Linked DNA regions of Homo sapiens: region 1 is linked to region 2. Evidence: fine-mapped QTL for protein levels in blood plasma. A gene starts in region 2. The other region holds a variant in brackets. All regions are shown on one strand. Distances are between the middles of the regions. Region 1 has its middle 27 kb from the start of PDE5A. Region 2 holds the start of PDE5A (phosphodiesterase 5A).

Region 1 (9,639 bases), 27 kb after region 2:
TTGTTTAGTGTCAGAAAATTTACAAAGAGATTTCTAGCCTATGCTTTTGGTACTTTTGGAAATTTAAACTAGACTATACCAGTCTCCATATTCTTTACTCTTGCCGTTAATAAACACACACACTCACACACACACACACACACACACACACACACACAGTAATTACAGTAATTCTGTAATACAGTACTATGAAATTAAAGGACTTGCATTTATATGCCTCCTACCCTTAGAATGTTAACTTCTTTAATTGGGAGTCTGCATCAATAGGCATTTCCCAAAAGTTGCTTATCTTTTATTGAGGGAACACTTTTTATTTTTTATTTATTTATTTTTTTTGTGACAGAGTCTTGCTCTGTCACCCAGGGTGGAGTGCAGTGGTGCAATCTTGGCTCACTGCAACCTCTGCCTCCCAGGTTCAAATGATTCTCCTTCCTCAGCCTCCTGCATAGCTGGGATTACAGGTATGCGCCACCACACCTGGCTAATTTTTGTATTTTTAGTAGAGACAAGGTTTCACCATGTTGGTTAGGCTGGTCTCTAACTCCTGACCTTGTGATCAGCCCACCTCAGCCTCCCAAAGTGCTGGGATTACAGGCGTGAGCCACCGCACCTGGCCTGTTGAGGGAATACTTTATGTCAGACATGGCCCTAAGATTTTACACACCTCATCTCATTTAAACTTTCCCACATTCAGTAAGGTAGATTTTCTTTCCATTTTATAAATGAGGAAGTAGGTTTACAGAGCTTAAGAATTTCTTCTAGATGTTTATGAGGATGATCTCTAATCATATAATGGGTTGTATAAACATCAATTAAGGTCACACAAATCAAGTGACAAGTGAAGTATGAATACTACTAGTAGGATGCTTAAATGTAGCTAGTCTAGGGACAAAATCAAAATATAATATAAATAGAAGATGTAATGTAACAACAATTTGAATATCTCTTATTTTGCGACAATAAATCACTCATTCCTATTAGCAAGTAGCTCAGCATATCCATCTTAAACTCCACCTCCTCTACCAATTTAACATGAATCATACATGTGTCAAACATGTATAATAGATGTATTTAAAAACGCCCAGTATTATGCATTAAATATAGGAAGTGCTTGTTAAAGTTTGGTTGAATAAAGGTTAGCAAATATATACTTTGAAATGCACAGTAACAAATAGGGGAAACAAATGGAATGTTTGATACCATTTCCAAAGTTACAGACTGATTTAAAAAATAGTTGCTACAGAATGACTGACCTGGTATGTATCCCCTTTCAAAAAAAGTTTAAAAGCACCCCATGAACTTGAAAGATGGAATTGCAAAAAGTCTCCCAACTCTGAGTCATTCTACAGCTACAGAATAAAAATCCTTTATGTATGGAAGAGTATTGCTTTTGATTTTTGGAGGGCTACATTTTACATGTGACCACCAATCACCATTTGACATAGACATTTCTGCTCTCTACTGGCATTCATTATTTTCCTTCATCTAACAATATCCAGGCCTTATGCAGGTATCTTCTACTGTCTCACACCTCACATGGGCCTAAGGAGGACCTGACTTCACTGCTGGATCCAGGGATGACTTTGCTGTATCTAAGGCTAAGTTCATTCCTAGAGCCAGTGATTGGTACAGAAGATGATGTGTGACCCAATTAATAATATTAGGGTGGATTTTCAAAGGATTCTTTGAGAAGCATTCATCATTGTAATGAGAGAGATTCTCAGTGTGACCCTCTTCTTCGAACATTGTCAGGATCCTTCTATAGCTGTTTTGCTACTACCCTGAACATGAAGCTTCTATTAAGAACAGAGAAATGAGCTAGAACCACAGAATAAAATCACCTGCCCTCCTTCTCTTCTTCCAGAAGTAAAATATTTCCAGTCTCTCTTCTAGACGAGAAGCCAATTAATACCTGATTGTTTAGGCTAGTTTGAGTTGGGCTTTCTGTTATTTGTAGGTGAAACTATTCTAACCGATACACCATCCACATTTTATTCTAATCAACAGTTCTGCTGTAAATATAACTCTGGTGTTGAGTCAATACAACACATTAAAAAAAGACAGGCCTGACTCATGGTATCAAAATGGTAGGACTGTCTTGCAAACCCAGAAGTTTATACATAGGGGCCTGCCAAGTCAAATACAGCCCTTCTGAAGACCACATTAGTTTAAAAACTTAGCAATTCAAATATGCCTGTGCATCTGAAGTCATCAAGTTCTAGTTCCCTAACATTGTATATTGTATGTTTTGTGAAATTATATGTATCCTGTGATAGCAGGAAACTCAAGTAATAATTTATTTGGCAAAGAAAAGTGAAGAGTGAAGATGGGTACATAATTTATGTATGAATTCCTGTATAACCTTTGCATATTTTAACACCATATGGAATTACTACAATTTTTTTAAAAAGGCTTAAAAGATTTTAAAAAGCCAACAAATTAAGCCAAGACCACAAATTACTTTTAATGCACTTTTAAAGACCACTGGAATCACAGCCATTAAAATTTATTTCAATTAGGAATGATACTTTTTAAGCTCAAAAACAACATTTGACCCTTAAGTAGATGATGAAAATATACATAATTTAAAAAAGATATTCTGAATTTAAATGATCACAGAGCTATCAATATGGGGTTTCAAATTGAGACTATCTTAAGCAATTAACCTAAAATGCCATGTGCATTTTGTTCAAAGACCTAGCAGGGAAGAGCAATTAGCAATTTGTGAATTATCATTTTATTTATATTTATATTCCAAAAGTAAGCTCATGCCTTGAATATACTATAGAGTATAAAATAGGAACCTAATTTACTTAAAAACTTTAAAAGTTTTTATCTGTTAAATGATTACTTATGGCCTATAATCAAGTTACTATATATATTTTTTAAAGCAATTTTTGGGCCAGGTGCAGTGGCTCAAACCTGTAATCCCAGCTACTCAGGAGGCTGAGGTAGGAGGATTGCTTGGCATTCAAGACCAGCTTGGACAACATAGTGAGATCCCCATCTCTTAAAAAATATATTAAAAGCTTGGTAGGCTAAGGCAGGAGAATCACTTGAGCCCAGGAGTTTAAGCCTGAAGTGAGCTATGATTGGTCACAGCACTCCAGCTTGGGCAACAGAGTGAGACCGCCATCTCAAAAATGAAACAAAAAGCAATTAGTTTTTATGTCTTCTTAAGTTTGCTTATTTTCCATCCCAACTAGTATTCATGGCGTATTTATTTGGAGTAAAGTGGTAAAAACTAATCCCGCTCTTATGAAAGCTAGAATATTGGCTTTTGGAATTCCAGAGAGATTTCGTCTTAATATTTTGCATTTACTAAAATAAACAATAAATTTATCTTTTAAATAATTCAATAAAAAGTAGGACATCCAATCTGTTGGTCAGAATTTTTTCACTGTGTTGTCCCTGATGAATCTTATAGCAACTGTTTTCCAACTCATCCTTGAACTCATAGTTCATTATGTTAAACATTTATTACATCATGTGAAATAGCTACAATGTTGAAACCAAATTAGCAGATATTTATTGACTATCACTATATACAAAGTGCTTTATTTAAATACAATTATTTTCCCTGTTGGACTTAAAAGCCCAGATTATTTAAGCCACATTATCCCCTTATAAAAGGTAGAAACAGCATCCAAACCTTTTAATTTAAAGGAAACCTAATTATTAACTGTAAAGAAAATGTAGTTGCAAAACAAGTCAGTAAAAACCTGAATAGGTATGATAATCGTATCCACTATTAAGTTTAAATTTAAGAGATAAAATATCTCCTAAATGCCTTTTGAAATCCAAATCACCTTGCTTGTTCAAGCCTTTCCCAGTATCTAGTAAAAATGTGACTCTATTCAGATAGATTTATCCCGTATATTATTATTATGATTTTACAAAAGCTAAAGGATTTAGAATTTATAAAACTGTTTTTGCTGCTTTAGGACCCAAACGGGCAATGTTCTAGAAGGGCAGGTAAGTCATTTATTGAGAATAATTCAACTATTCATAGGATCCATAATGTTTTTTTAAGATTTATTCATCTATTTGTGTATTCATTGATGAAGAATTTTGAATACTTCCTATCTAAAATCGTCATTATTTAAAAGCGATTTGTGAAAATATACTATTACTGGGAAGATAGCTATTAGACTATTTATTTTCCATTCATTTTGCAAGGAAGTGTATCCCTCTGAGCTTGTTTGATTTGGATATGTATCCCTAAAATAAATATTGCTATGATGGCTTCCTGTTTAACGTCAGGCTAGTCAACTGACCATAGAAATCCTGCAGTTGTATTAGAAGTTCCTTCACATGGATTCCCATGTAAATGCTTTCATTATTTGGTATGTTAAAACCAACTGCTTCCACCTATATTCAAACTTTTATAGCGTTTTGTTCTTACACTTACAAAGAGACTAGAACTACTTTACAAAGATAATACTATTATTTTTAAATAATGATACTATGTCCCATTTAGATCAACATTTAACATATGCCACATTAATTTTGAGATGGATATTAAATTAGCTATTCTGGTTTCCTGGTTCTTGGCAAGTTATTTATGACTCTCTTTTTTCCTTATCTGCAAAAT[T/C]ACATTCCCCCAAATCTATTACCCTTCCTACAGCTGGACCCACATGCTCTGCCTTTCCTGCCATTCTAGGGGATAAGCATGGCTCTTGCCTCTCTGCTTGTGTACCAGGTCCTGTTCCTCCTTAATTTCTGTGAGCCTTTGCTGATCCCCTGCCTCTTCTGTATAATCACACTTTATTTCATCCCCAAAGCATCAATACATGCTGTGATACCTTCCAATCTTTTATATATATATGTATGTGTGTGTGTATATTACACGTAATATATATTATATATATTTATTTATATTTATAAAGAGCCCTCCCTCCACTCCACATCCCACCTCAGCTTTGCCCATTTTTCTGCTCCCCCTTTATGGTAGAATTCCCTGTTTTCTCTTTTCTTCTCCTCCTCATTCTCTGCCTGGGTCTTTTACCTGAACCTCCTTGATTTTTTTAAGCAATATTTCTACAAAATGTTTCAAAACAAATATCTTTCTATACCTGTCAGTTTGTAGAATTTTAATAAAATCTTACATAATCTTATCTGGATATGTAAATCCCATTTAAGCAAAATTGGAGTCCAGCTATCTATTTACCCATCTATGTAACTTTTTACATATTCTTTTTAAGGTATTTGCCAAATTTATTTTACTCTCTCACAGAACTCTCTCTCTGGAACTCACTGCAGTTAGGCTTTCTTCCCTTCCACTCCACAGAAAAGCACTCTTTAAGGTCACAAATGACCTCTGTCTTGCCACATCCAGCATAAAATTCTCAGTCCTCATCTAACTTGACCTATCAGCAGCATTTGGCACAGCTGACCATCCCTTCACCATTTTCTTCATTTGGTTTTCAAATCACTACACTGATCTGCTTTGAGCCCTATTTCACTGGCTGCCTTGTCTGTCTTTGTTGCTTGAGCTGCCTCTGCCTCCTGACCAGGACTCAGTCTTCAGCTCCCTTCTCTCTATTCATACTTATTTTCTGGCAATCTCATCTCTGAGCTGAAAACTCCCAACATAATATGTCCAGACAATGTTGAGAAAAATGGATTTTTATTTCTCATTGTGATATACAAACAATTAGAAAAGATTTGATAGCACCTCTTTTGATTCCATATTCCTCCCCTCACCCTGTCTGCTATCCTTGGAAGCAAATATGATTTTTATATGCTCATTTATTTGACAAATACTTATTGAGAAATATGTGCCATCTCTGTACTGTCTTACCTCTAATCTGGGCTTCTGATGGTTTCTGTCCTTTTTTCTGTTTTTCCTGGGCAACCTCATTCATTCCCACTACTTGAGGTATATTCTAAACCCTCTCAAATTCATATCTCCAGCCCAGACTTTCTTCACTGAACTGCAAACTCAAAGCTCTGCCTTCTAGGTTTCTTATACCTGGAACAGACACCTCAAATTCCATATTAAAGTTTAAATGCAATTTGATTACAAATTCAAAAAACACAAACAAACCTTGTTCTTCCTGCCTAAGTCAGAGATGAGTCATTCTCAATTCCTCCTCTTTCCCCAGTTCACATGCCTTTCTAAGTACCTCTGTAGCTGGTCACCTTATCTTTATTCCACTTCATCATTTCCTTGCCTTAACCATTTATTCTCTAAGGATCTCCTGGACTCCATTCTTGGATTCCTCCAATTCTTGCCCTACATTTCTGCCAGCATAATCTATCTAAATTGAAATCTGAATATTTCACATCCTTGAACAATATCTTTGATGACTCTATCTCCCATGAGGGAGGTTATGGTTGCTTTCATTGTAAGAATAATACCTCTTAACCCTCATCAGCTTGTCTGCAAAAGCTCTTATGTTCTGGCCCAACAGAAAGACTTGCAGATCTATGAAGCTGAAATGCTCTTCCAGATCTCTGTCTTGCATGTGTTACCACAACTTGAAATGCTTGGCCTTCACCTTGTGTGTCTGGTGAATATGCATTCTTTCATCAAGACTCAGATGAAATTATACTATCTTTGATGCTTCTTAAGCCCTGATGCCACTCAGATGTACATCCTCTCTCCTCTGTTATCATACCTTGTATAGATCTCTTTATTTATTTCCATGTATCTCATGTCATGTCATTATTTGTCTGTATGTCTGCCTACTCCACTGGACAGGAAAATTTATACAGGAAGAAACCATGTATTATGAAGCTTATAATTTTAGCATTTTTATTTTTATTTCATCTTTTCTACAGAACAGGGAACAGCTGATGTGCACTATCCTTTTGATGGATATTTTATAAGCTGAAGAAGTTTAGATTATAAGACAAAATTTCTTTTTCTAAAAGATAATAGTTATTTTTCTAAAATTAGTTACTTCCCACATATACAAGTTTTTCTGTTAAATTGAAATATAATTCATATACCACAAAATTCACCTTTTTAAAGTGTATGATTAAGGCTGGGTGTGGTGGTCCACACTTACAATCCCAGCTCTTTGGGAGGCTGAGGTGGGTGGATCACTTGAGGTAAGGAGTTCGAGACAAGCCTGGCCAACATGAAGAAACCCTGTCTCTACAAAAAATACAAAAATTAGCCAGGCATAGTGGGGCATGCCTGTAGTCCCAGTTACTCTGGAGGCTGAGGCACAAGAATCACTCGAACCCGGTGGAGGTTGCAGTGAGCCGAGATCACGCCACTGCACTCCAACCTGGGTACTCTGTCTCAAAAATAAACAAACAAACAACAAACAAATAAAGTATATAATTTAATGGTTTTTAGTATATTCTAAAACAAAATCATGCAACCATCACCGCTATCCAATTTCAGAACATTTTCATTACTTTCAAAATAAATCCTGACCCATTTAGTTGTCACTTCCCACTGCCTCCCATGCAGCCCAACTAATCGACTTTCTGTCTTAATAGTTTGCTTATTTTGGACATTTAATATAAATGAAATTATACAATATGTAGCCTTTTGTGTCTGGTTTCTTTCATTCAATATAATGTTTTCAAGGTTCATCTATGTAGTAACATGTATTATTTCTTTTTAGGACTGAGTAGTATTTCATCATAAGAGCATACCACATTTTGTTTATTCATTCTTCAATTGATTTTTCCACTTTTTGGCTATTATGAATAATGCTGCTATGAACATTCATGTGCAGGTTTTTGTGTAAACATATATTTTAAATTTTCTTGTATATTTAGGAGTAGAATTGCTGGGTCATATGACAAATCTATGTTTAACTTTTTGAGGAACCACCAAATCATTTTCCATAATGATCACACTATTTTACATTCCCACAAGCAATGTATGAGGGTTCCAATTTCTCTACATCCTTGCCAACACTTGTTATGGTCCATCTTCTAAATTATAGCTGTCTTAGTATGAACTGATATCTTATTGTGGTTATACAGGATTTGATAGCATCCTCCCATAAAAGGGTTATAAAAAGTTCCATTCTCTCTAAAATCAGCAAGTGAATATTTCATTTTATATTATGCTGAAATAAGTGGGAGTTACACATTTCAGAAAACAGAACAATCCTTTTTCTTATCTAAGCATCTTTAATGTTTCATAGAGCTTGTCATATTTTAAATTATTTCTTATTCTTCCTAAGATTGTCACTTATATTTCAATTTTTTTTTTGCAGTATAAGCCTCCCAAATGCAAACTTCTGAATTAAGATTTAACCTATGTTAATTTAGAGGGGAAAATATTTTCTAGCTTTCATCTTCCCATCCATCCTACTTGTAAGTGTTATATGACAGTATATAGTTAGCGATGGGGATAACACAGTTAATTTATAGTCCCTTGTGACTCTTTAGACTATTTTTTTCTTATATTCATAACCAATCTTTCCTGGTAATTAGCTTGTTTTTGTCAATGCTTAACCCACCCAACTTAGTATTATTTGAGAACTTAATTTTCTGCTCCCCAACATGGTGTTCAGCATTTGTAGTAGGTTTTAAAAACTAGGTAAATTTATTTGAACATGTGGTAGGGTGGAGTGACATTTGTTATAGTGGCTGTTTGTACTTTTCTGCACACATTCCCTTGGTTGAGTCTTACAAACCACAAATGAGGTGACTGTGATTGTAGCCAGCACTTTAGTTTCTAGTTAAAGAGAGGATTATTCCAGTTTACATAAAAAATGACAAGAATGATTTGTCCAGATGGATTCTGCAAGCTGATAAGATATGGCCAGATGCTTCAGGCCATTATCTGCTGTGTTAGGGATTTTGAGAGTCTTCTGTTGACATTTCCATGTATATTCTGATGAAGTGGTTGCTATGTGTTTTTCCATGCTTATGTAAATATTCATCTAAAGATCTTGCCTTCAAACACTTTAAGCATTTCTCAGTTTTGTTTGGAGGCTTTTAGCTTAGTCATTGACTGAATGTTTCATTCATTGATTTACTATTTATTCACCCTGGAACTATATTGGTATAACTGTAATTTTCATTATTGTTATTATTATTATTGAGACATTAAACTATTCGCTCCTCAAAGACCCTTTGACCCTTCCTTTAAGCTATCATGTGCTTACATAGTTGTGTATAACCTAACCTACCCATTCTACACAACCTTACCTTCAACATCCTAGCTTAAATATAACTTTACTCTTACGAGTGTGCATAGCTGAATATTTAGCTTAAATAATGTTGTCATCATGCTCATAAATATGTACAACTAAGCATTAAACACCATATAATTTTTACTAATATTCACAATTATTTTAATTTTGTTCTAGCATTCAAAAGTAAAAAGCATTTTATCTATCTATATATATATATATATTTTATTTTTTTATTTTTTTATTTTTTTGAGACAGAGTCTCACACTGTTGCCCAGGCTGGAGTGCAGTGGCGCGATCTCAGCTCACTGCAAACTCTGCCTCCTGGGTTCAAGCGATCATCTTGCCTCAGCCTCCCAAGTAGCTGGGATTACAGGTGCCTGCCACTACGCCCAGCTAATTTTTGTATTTATTTATTTATTTATTTTAACAGAGACAGGGTTTCACTGTGTTGGCCAGGCTGATCTCAAACTCCTGACCTCGTACTCTGCCTGTCTCACCCTCCCAAAGTGCTGGGATTACAAGC
Region 2 (9,452 bases):
AATCATGTCATCCTTAACAATATTAAATGACCTAAAACATCACCCACAATCACAGAGCTGATTAGTAATTAATGAAAGGTAACTTTATTCTAATATGCTGTCAAGAATAACAACAGCTGTTAAGCAGCATTAGCACCAGGAAAGCTTCAGTTGTAAAAGGCATACGCATTAAAGCCCTCAATTAACACAGTAGCTGAGGCCTTCAGGACTGCAAATTGTCTACAATAGTGACCTGGGAGTTTTCCAGATGTGATTTATTGGCCTCAAATTAATTTTTATGCCAACCGACTATGTTCTGAATCATTCAATTGACACCTTCAAATGGACATAAACAGGTTGTGATAACTAAAAAGCTCCAAGTTATAGCTTTTTTTTTTTTTTTTTGAGATGGAGTCTCACTCTGTTGCCCAGGCTGGAGTATAGTGGAGCAATCTTGGCTCACTGCAACCTCTGCCTCCCGGGTTCAAGCGATTCTCCTTAGTAGCTGGGATTACAGGCGCGCGCCATACCTGGCTAATTTTTGTATTTTTAGTAGAGACGGGGTTTCACCATGTTGGTCAGTCAGGCTGGTCTTGAACTCCTGACGTCGTGATCTGCCCGCCTCGGCCTCCCAAAGTGCTGGGATTACAGGCATGAGCCACCGTGCCAGGCCCAACCTATAGCTTTTAATAAGATGCGTAGCTCTCTACTTGAAGACAGTGATAGTAAACAATGTAATATAATGGCATAAATGCTTTCAAGGTCAACCCAAATTCACAGGTGTTTGAGAATTTAGGAATGCCAGAACCTTGATGTTCAATAACTACCATTGAGTGTAGATCATTTAGTCTGAGAAAAGGATGGAAAATCATGCATGAATGTCGAATGACAACAATAATGCAGAAATTGTTTTTATCAGCAAGCCTGATTACTGGTGCAGATGGACGATCTGGGTGAATATAAATATATTTTAAATCTTAAAACATGCCGCATGCATCTACAGAACTATTTTGTTTCATGGGTTTCCTGAATCACATACAATATTCATTTTACACTTACAAAGTGTAAAAAGAGGGGAAAAGCAAAGTAATGTGAGCTCCTACTTTTAAAAAAAAAAATCCTTAGCTGTAAAGTTAAAACGTATGCAATAAGTTTTTACCACAAAATGTGAACCACACTGGGGTTAGTGGTTTGCATTTTTATAATCAACAAATGTCCATCCTCTTATTCACATTTTAAGTCTCCTGTTAATGCCACCAAATATAAAACCAAATTGGAATATTGTTTCATGAAAGACCTCTGGCTACACACAAATTCTTAGGTTATATTCTTTACTCTGACAACTCTCAGCACTTTATTATAACTCTTAAAATTGAGGACCTGCACTATTAAATATTTTACACTTTCATTTTCCAACTTACACTCAACATAACCTCTTAAGAATATGTATACACACATACATATATATATCACAGAAAGTGTTCAGCCTGTTGCCAACATCAACTGTAATTTAAAAACTCTAACCGAAAATTTTTTAAAAGTTTTTTTAGAGCCTCAGATGATCTAAATTTTACAGTGAGCATGGTAAATTTGAGAAATAGGATTTTGATCCTATGCTGCTTGGGAGAAAAAGTAATGGGAAAAGAAATGTAACTCAGCTCTTTCCATTTATTTTCCATTAAAATGTTGCTACACTTTCAAAGTGTTGGTAGGTTCTGAAAATGCAGTGTTCCTATCTATGACTAGTCAAAAACGACCAACAAGCCATCCCTAGTTTACATCTTTAAAAGAAAAATAGGGAACGAAGAAAGGACATTTATGCTGATTTATTAAACAATAACTTTTTTTCTTTAAACTGTTTATAATCTGCCTAAAGAACAGGTCCAATACATACTTTTAAAAATCGGCCTGGTTCTCTGGCCCCCTGATCATTCTATGCGCTGTAATTCAAGGAGAGCAGAAGGCTGGGAATGCGCAGAGTGAAAGGAAAGTGGGTGCAGATGGCCTCAGAGGGGCAGGTGACCCCTGAAAACTGTTAGTCGACAGCAACCGATCATTCTAGACCTCCATGGCCTTAGTGTCTCACGCTAAACTCGCAAAAAAGTGCCCTTTCAGGGCTATCCTCTGGGCGCTCAAGATTTAGGATTTTGAAGGAAGAAGGTGAAAGCGGGGGAAGACGATTTTAAAAGAAGGGCTGGGTTATTAAATTGAAAAGATTAATCCCGGAGCCTTCCCCTCTGTCAAAAAACCCTGAAAGTGACTAAATTGACACCAACTCTGGATGTTCCTTAGGAAAAAAACAAAACAAAACAAAACAAAACAAGATTAAAAAGGGCCCAATTTAAGACCCTTATTAATACATCTGCAAGAGAGCAAAGAATAACAACAACAACAAAAGTTATACAGTCAATTTTCAATGATACATCGTCCCACTGGTGCCACCGGGGCGCCACCACCCAGCACCCGAGACCCGCCGCGCCCCCGGAAAAAGTGGGAAGGGACGTAGGGGGATGCTGAAGGAAGTACCTTGTTTTGTCTCCAAAGGGCAACATAGCAAACGTGGGAAGTTCGTTTTCGAACTCCGCCGATCCTGGACTCCAGGAGGCTCCGTAGGGGCAACAACGCGCGCAGGTGAGGTGAGGTGAGGTCGGCGACTCAGAACCAGCTCCCTCACGGCCCCGGCCTCCGCGCCGCCGCCCGTCGCCTCCCGCTCGCCCCGCGCTGCGCCGCCCCCTGGCGGGGAGCGACCGGCAGAGCCGCGGCCGCGCGCCGGCGAGTGGGACCCGGGCGTCGAACCCGGGCGGGCTCCTCGACCATCACTGCCGGGCGTGTGTCACCCTCCCGGCCAAGACGGCCAGCACCCGCTGCCCGACGGCCGCTGCCCAGAGCAGGCGGCAGCGGGGCACGGACTCTTTCTGCAAAGGGGCGCGTCCTGGAGTCCACGCACCCCGACTATGCATCAATTCCTCAGGCTTCGGGGCACCCGCCCGCCAAGCACTCTCTGCTCCACTCTTCTTGTCCCTCTGCTCCCAGTCTCAATTCCTCCCCAACTCTCCCGCGAGCGTTTCCCACGAGCGCCCCGACTGCCCGCTGCGCAGCCGCCTCCAAAAGGACAGGCTCCCTCCTCCCCGCCCTCCGCAAGGGCCGCCCCGGCGCTTGGCTCTGGACCAGAAAGAGCTGGCCTCTGGGGTCTGCGCTGCCCCTTGGGGTCCGCTCCAGGCGGCGCCTCCCCTGCGCCCTTTGTGTGCACGCCGCAAACCCCTCTGCAGAGCTCTACTTTTGGCGGCACAGCCTTCGGCGGAAAAGCGAGTGAAAGGAGGCGCGCGGGACAAGCAGGAGACTGGAAGGGGGGAAAAGGCAACCGCACTCACTTTGGCAAGGTTCCGTCATGTTGCCTTTGGGCTGTCCCGTGGACTCGTCCCTCACCCCAGCTTCCCCGCCCAGCCAGGGCCAGGGCGAGGGGGGACGGGGGAGGAGCGGAGCCATCAAGACCGACTTGGAAATGGTGCTTCCGGAGCTGCAGGGAAGGGGCTCAGAAACTGTTTGGGTTTTGCTGATTGGATTTTGGGGAACCAGAGGGCTAGAGAGGGGCTAGGGGAAGGCCCGTGAGCACGGATGTATGAAAATAATCATGTTCCCGGGGAATACCAAGAGGGTCGGGGGTGAGGGTGGGAGGTCGGCAAGTACATTTTTGTATTTGAACTTTGTGAGCAAGTTGTATCAAATCCGACACTTGAGTTTTTCGACTGTGCTCGCTTAGAGTTGAGGTTTCTACCTCGTAACAGGACCGAGGACCTACTTCAAAAGCAAAGGGCCTGGGAACAGGGGTGAACGAAGGGCACAATTCAACAGGGGAGAGAAATCAGCCCCGGGTCTTCCGTGGGTCCTCTTCTTACCTGGTGGCTTTTCTAACAAAGTATGAGAAGGTAAAGTCCCAGTGATCGTCCAGCCATGCTTCGACCGAGTCCTGATCCCTCTGCTGCTGCTTCTGCTGCTGGGGCTGCTGCTGCTGTCGCTGCTGCCCGAAGCTGGGGCCGGCCCGCTCCATGGTTGGCACCGCGCGCCTCGGAGGCTCTCTGGTACTGCTTTTCCACCCCAGCTGGGGTCCGTCCCTCAGAAGAACAGGACTCGGCCTCGAGACCCTCCCCCTTCGTCCTGCTCCAGTCGGGCCGGCTTTCGACAAAGCGGCCGGAGCGCCAGGCCAGCCTCCTGCCCCGCCCCGCCCCGCGCGGTTCTACGGGCGCCCAGGTGTGGTGGGCGGGGCCAGGCGCAGCTGCTGCGCCCCCCCCACCCGGGGTCCGGCAGTGTTCCGCTCTCGCAGGCTCTTCAGTCCCCTGGTTCCCAGGAGGCGGCGGCGGCGGCGGCAGCGGCAGCGCCCGGCGAGCTCTCCGGAAGCCAAGTGGCGGCGGCTGGAAGGAGGCCGCGCGGCCGCTGGGGTGCGCTGTGTGCCAAGCCGACTTCTGGGGAGCGCGCTAGGTGACTGGGTGTGTTCTCAGAGTGCCCCAGGGAGGGAAGGTCGCGATGTGGGAAGTTTTGCCCGAAAGTAAGAGATGATGAGACCCTGGGCCCTTTTCCTGGGGCCTGGGAGTGCAATGACCTTCCCGCCTAGCTTTTCCCTAGCCCTACGCTTGGGTCTGGGAGGAGCGGGACCGACCTCCTTCAGAGCCCAGCCCGCTCAGTGACTTAAAGCGGTCCAGCCACGGACCACTGCGGGTGGAGAGAGCTGGGGCGTGTGCTAGCAAGAGAGATTTGCAGGTGTAGGTGGGTAACTTGCAACAAAGCCATACCCGTGCTTAATGTTAATGATAACAGCAATAATTATAACTTAAGTGCCTTTAACCATTGCCTCAAACTTCCCTTATGCATAACTGGAAAAAGATTTACTTGGAAAAGAAAAAGCAAACAAATAATTTCCAATGCTTTGTGCATGAAGTTAGAAAACAAGGGCACCTCTGTACAATTAGGTTAATCCGAGAGCACTGGCGCAACCCAGGTGCAGTCGAGGGCAACCAGTTATCCCAATTTTAAATTAATGCATCATTTTAATTAAATTGGAATTAACACTCCCTCAAAAGTATCCATTAAAAATGGCTCAGCCTTTTTGTCCAATCCCTATCTTGCTTCTTTAAAAAAGGAATTGGTGTCATCCTTTGCTTTGTCTGCATCCCCATCTTCCTGTCATGCATTGGCAGTTTTAATATGGCATTTTGCAATGACCTATATTTTTTGGTAGAATTAAATCTGGAATTATGGGTTGCACAATGTGTGAATGACACCATTAGCAGTGATATAAAAAAAAATGAGTTAGCTGATATACTTCTGACAACTTCCTTCTAAATACTCTTGGCAAGAATTTAAGGCATTATTCACTACATAGAAACACATCATTAAATTGATAATCTGAGAACTTTTAAAAGTATCTTCTAGTCCCCCAATGCAATGGTTTATCTTTCCTTCATTGAGTAATTGACCTTTTGCGACTTCAGTTTTTCTGAAACTTTACTGCTGTATGCAGGTAGCCACAACCAAAGAAAAGCAATCAAAGCAGTAGAGTATGAACTAATGGGTGATAAATTATATTGGATTTAGAAATGAGAATTCTCTCCTAATGTGTTACTATGATAGTGATTATAGTGCTCATGGAATACAGTCATGCGTCACCGAACAACAGGATACATTCTGAGAAATGTATCCTTAGGCAATTTCATCCTTCTCTGAACATCACAGTGTACTAACACAAAATAGATGGCTCAGCCTACTACACACTTAGGCTATTGCTCCTAGACCACAAATCTATACAGCATATTACTGTACTGAATACTGTAGGCAATTGTAATGCAATGATATTTGTGTGTCTAAACATATCTAAACATAGAAAAGGTACAGTAAAAATATAGTATTATCTTATGGGACTCATATATGTGGTCTGTCGTTGACTGAAAAGTGGCACATTACTGTGGAAAGTTTCTCCTCAGTACAGTTTTTTCTTGTGGAAATCCATGCATTCCTCCTAACAGGAGATCAATCGTAATTTAAAACTCTGCTTATCTACTAAAGATGCAGTGAATTTGGGGCTTGAATTATTTGCTTTTGTTGGATACTTGATTAAATAAACACGTATAATCATTTCAATGTTTGTATTCCCTCCAAAATTCATGTTGAAACTTAATCCCTAATTCAACAGTATTAAGAGGAGGTGCCTTTAAGTGGTGATTAGACCATTAGGGCTCTGCCTTTGTGAATGCATTAGTGCCTTTTTAAAAAAAGGCCCAAAGGAGACAGTTGGCCCCTTCTATTCTTTCCACTATGTGAAGACACAGCACTGACCCTTGCTGAGGATGCAGCAACAAGGTGCCATTTTGTAAGCAAAGAGCAGCCCTCACCAGTTGCCAAATCTGCTGGCACTTTGATTTTGGAGTTTCCAGCCTCCAGAACTGAGAGAAATTAATTTCTATTGTTTATAAATATCCCAGTCTGTGATATTTTATTACAGCAACACAAATGGACTAAGACAGTGGGTAATATCAAAATGTTCATTTTTCTCTCCTAACCTGAAAGGGTTAAATTATCAGAAACCAGGAAGGTTTCTGAAAAATTGCTTCAAGAAAAACAATCTATAGGCTGGGCACAGTGGCTCATTCCTGTAATCTCAGAACTTTGGGAGGGAGAGGTAGAAGGATACTTGAGCTCAGGAGTTTGAACCAGCCTGGGCCACATGGCATGACCCCATCTCTACACAAAATTTTTAAAAATTAGCCAGGCATGGGGGAACACACCTGTAATCCTAGTTATTCGAGAGGCTGAGGCAAGAGGATTGAGCCCAGGAGGTCAAGGCTGCAGTGAGCCATGATCGTGCCATTGCACTTCAGCCTCAGTGACAGTGTAAGACCCCCGGCTCTATAACAAAAAAGAAAAAAAAAGAAAAACAGTACATAGATTCTCTCAATAGTGAATCTCAAGTCTGTGTGGTATATATGATAGTTTGGGAGTTACTGTGAAGGCCTATTACCTGAGAAACATATCACAAGGGATTGGGGAACAGAAGTGTCTCAAACAGTTCTAGTCTCTGGGAGATTCAGCCAAAATGTGTAACTATACCTCCTGTAAATTTAAAGTAGTTAAAGGTAAGCATATTTTGAACTGACATTACCTGGGCCTCTTGTTTTTCAACTCCATTTTATTCTTTATCCCAATTTGCCCAATTATTTTGTTTTAACTTGGCATGAATTGTTCTAAGCACCTCAAATCTTGTTATGGAATTAGTTGAAGAATAAGTAAATCATAAACACTCCCAGGATATAACTTGAAAAATGCTGTTAATGCTATTTATAACAAACAAATGAGCAATGATGTATGTATGTGTATATGTATGATATATATATGTGTGTATATGTATATATATATTTAATTTTTGTAAATGACCCAGTCTGTGGTATTTTGTTATTGCAACACAAGTGGACTAAGATATATATATATATATATATAAAATCAATGATATATATGTGTATATACATACATATATGTCATTGCTCATTTGTTGCTCATGAGCAACAGCTTAACTAAAGACCTTCAATGTATTCCCACTGTGCTAAAATAAAATTCAAACTCTGTAACGTGGCTTATGGGGTTCTACATTATTTGGTTGTTACCTACCTGTACTGCTAAAGATTTTGGTCATACAAATAGAAAAAACAAATGCAACAAAGCAAAAACACAAAAAAGAAATATAAGGCATAAAAATGAAAAAGTAAACATTCTCCATTTGCAGACATGAGTATCTATGAGGAATACCCAAAGGAATGCACAAAGCAACTACAAGAATTAAGAGGTGATTCAGCAAGCTTGCAGCATAAATGGTCAGTATACAAAAATCAATTGTATCTCTGTATACTAGTCTTATGGGCTGATTTGTTTCCCCAGATTCATATGTTGAAGCCCTAACCCCTAGTACCACAGAATGTGATTGTATTTGGAGATAGGGCCTTTAAAGAGGCAATCAAGGTTAGATGAGGTCATGAGAGTGGTCCCTAATCCAATCTGACTGGTGCCACTATAAGAAGAGGGAATTTGCACACACAAAAAAGTGACACCGGTGATACTCTCCCACAGAGGGATAACCGTGTGAAGAGGCAGCAAGAGAATGGCCATTTGCAAACCGAGGAGAGACACCTCCAAGGAATCCAACCTGCTGGCACCTTGATCTTGGACTTCTAGTCCCCAGCACAGTGGCAAGATCAATTTCTGTTATTTAAGCCACCCAGCGTGTGGTACTTTGTTACGGCAACACTAACAAACTAATACAACTAACAGTGAACAATTTGAAAACAATATTATTTATAATCGTGTAAAAAACATTAAATACTTAGGGATAAATTTGGCAAAATATACATAAGAAATATACACTAAAAGTTATAAAACATTACTGGGAGAAATGCAAAAAGACCTAAATAAATGGACAGATACATTCATTGATCGGCAGACTCAATATTATTATGATGTTTATTCTTTCCAAACCGAGCAATATGATCCCAATCGTATTTCAGCAGACATTTTCATGGAAAGCGAAAATCAGATAACAAATTTTCTATGGAAATGCAAGAGATACAGAATGGCAAAACAATATTGAAAAAGAATAAAACTAGAGAACTTATGCTACCTAGCTTTAAGATTTACTATAAAGCTATAATAATCAAGGCAGTATGGCATTTGCATATGGTTAGTCAAACAGAACCATAGAATAGAATAAAGAGTTTAGAAATATCATTTATACAACTAGTTGATTTTCAACAAAGGTACCAGTTATTCTTTAAATAAAAGTAAAGTTTTTTTCAATAAATAATGCTTTAACAACTGGATCTTTATATGGAAAAATAGTATCCTCAACCAATATTTTATATTATATATAAACGTTAATTAGGAATGAAACAGATCTAAAAACTAAATGTGATTTCTAGGAGGCGACATAGAAGAATATCTTTACAACTTGGGAGCAGCAGGGATTTCTTAGGAGGACACAGAAATCAATTAACTGTACGGAAACAACAACAACATCTAGATTTTATTAAAATCTTTTACTCTTTGAAAGACACTATAAGGAAAATAAAAATCCACAAACTAGAAGAAAATGTTTGCAAAACATTTATCTAACAGGGACTTGTATCCAGAATACATAGAGAACTCCACAGCTTAATAATAAAAAGATAAATGTCTCAATAGGGGAAAAACTAGCAAAGGACTTAAGCAGACACTTAATAAAGTAAGACATGTGAAAGTTCACTAAGCACATGTAAAAATACTCAACACCTAAGTCTTCAGGGAAATGCAAGTTAAACCACCGTGAGATCTGCCTCCACCCTCTAGAATGGTCAAAATTAAAAAGACTGCTAACGCCACATGATGTTTGGTGTTAGATATGTAGCAGTCAGAACTCTCACACATTGCTGGTAGGAAGTTAAAATGGTATAACCACTTTT

Evidence for each region. PIP is the posterior inclusion probability: the model's chance that the variant is causal. Protein levels are from antibody-based Olink assays in UK Biobank. Linkage for the fine-mapping came from a reference panel and not from the study's own genotypes, which makes the PIPs less certain.
Region 1: its variant is fine-mapped to the plasma level of the PDE5A protein (UK Biobank, PIP above 0.99).

What each region holds. Positions count from the first base shown.
Region 1 is chr4:119,651,069-119,660,707 of GRCh38, forward strand. No RefSeq gene overlaps it. Among named protein-coding and RNA genes, the nearest start is that of PDE5A, 27 kb to the left of the region's middle. The variant T/C (reference allele first, on the strand shown) is at 4,595.
Region 2 is chr4:119,624,645-119,634,096 of GRCh38, forward strand. PDE5A (phosphodiesterase 5A) reads right to left here and starts at 4,160. Exons shown (of 21, transcript NM_001083.4): 1 at 3,876-4,160. The coding sequence starts at 4,027. It overlaps LOC107986192 (a long non-coding RNA gene), which reads left to right and starts at 3,146. Exons shown (of 1, transcript NR_165235.1): 1 at 3,146-6,111. RefSeq lists silencers at 2,594-2,873, 4,094-4,493 and an enhancer at 3,004-3,053.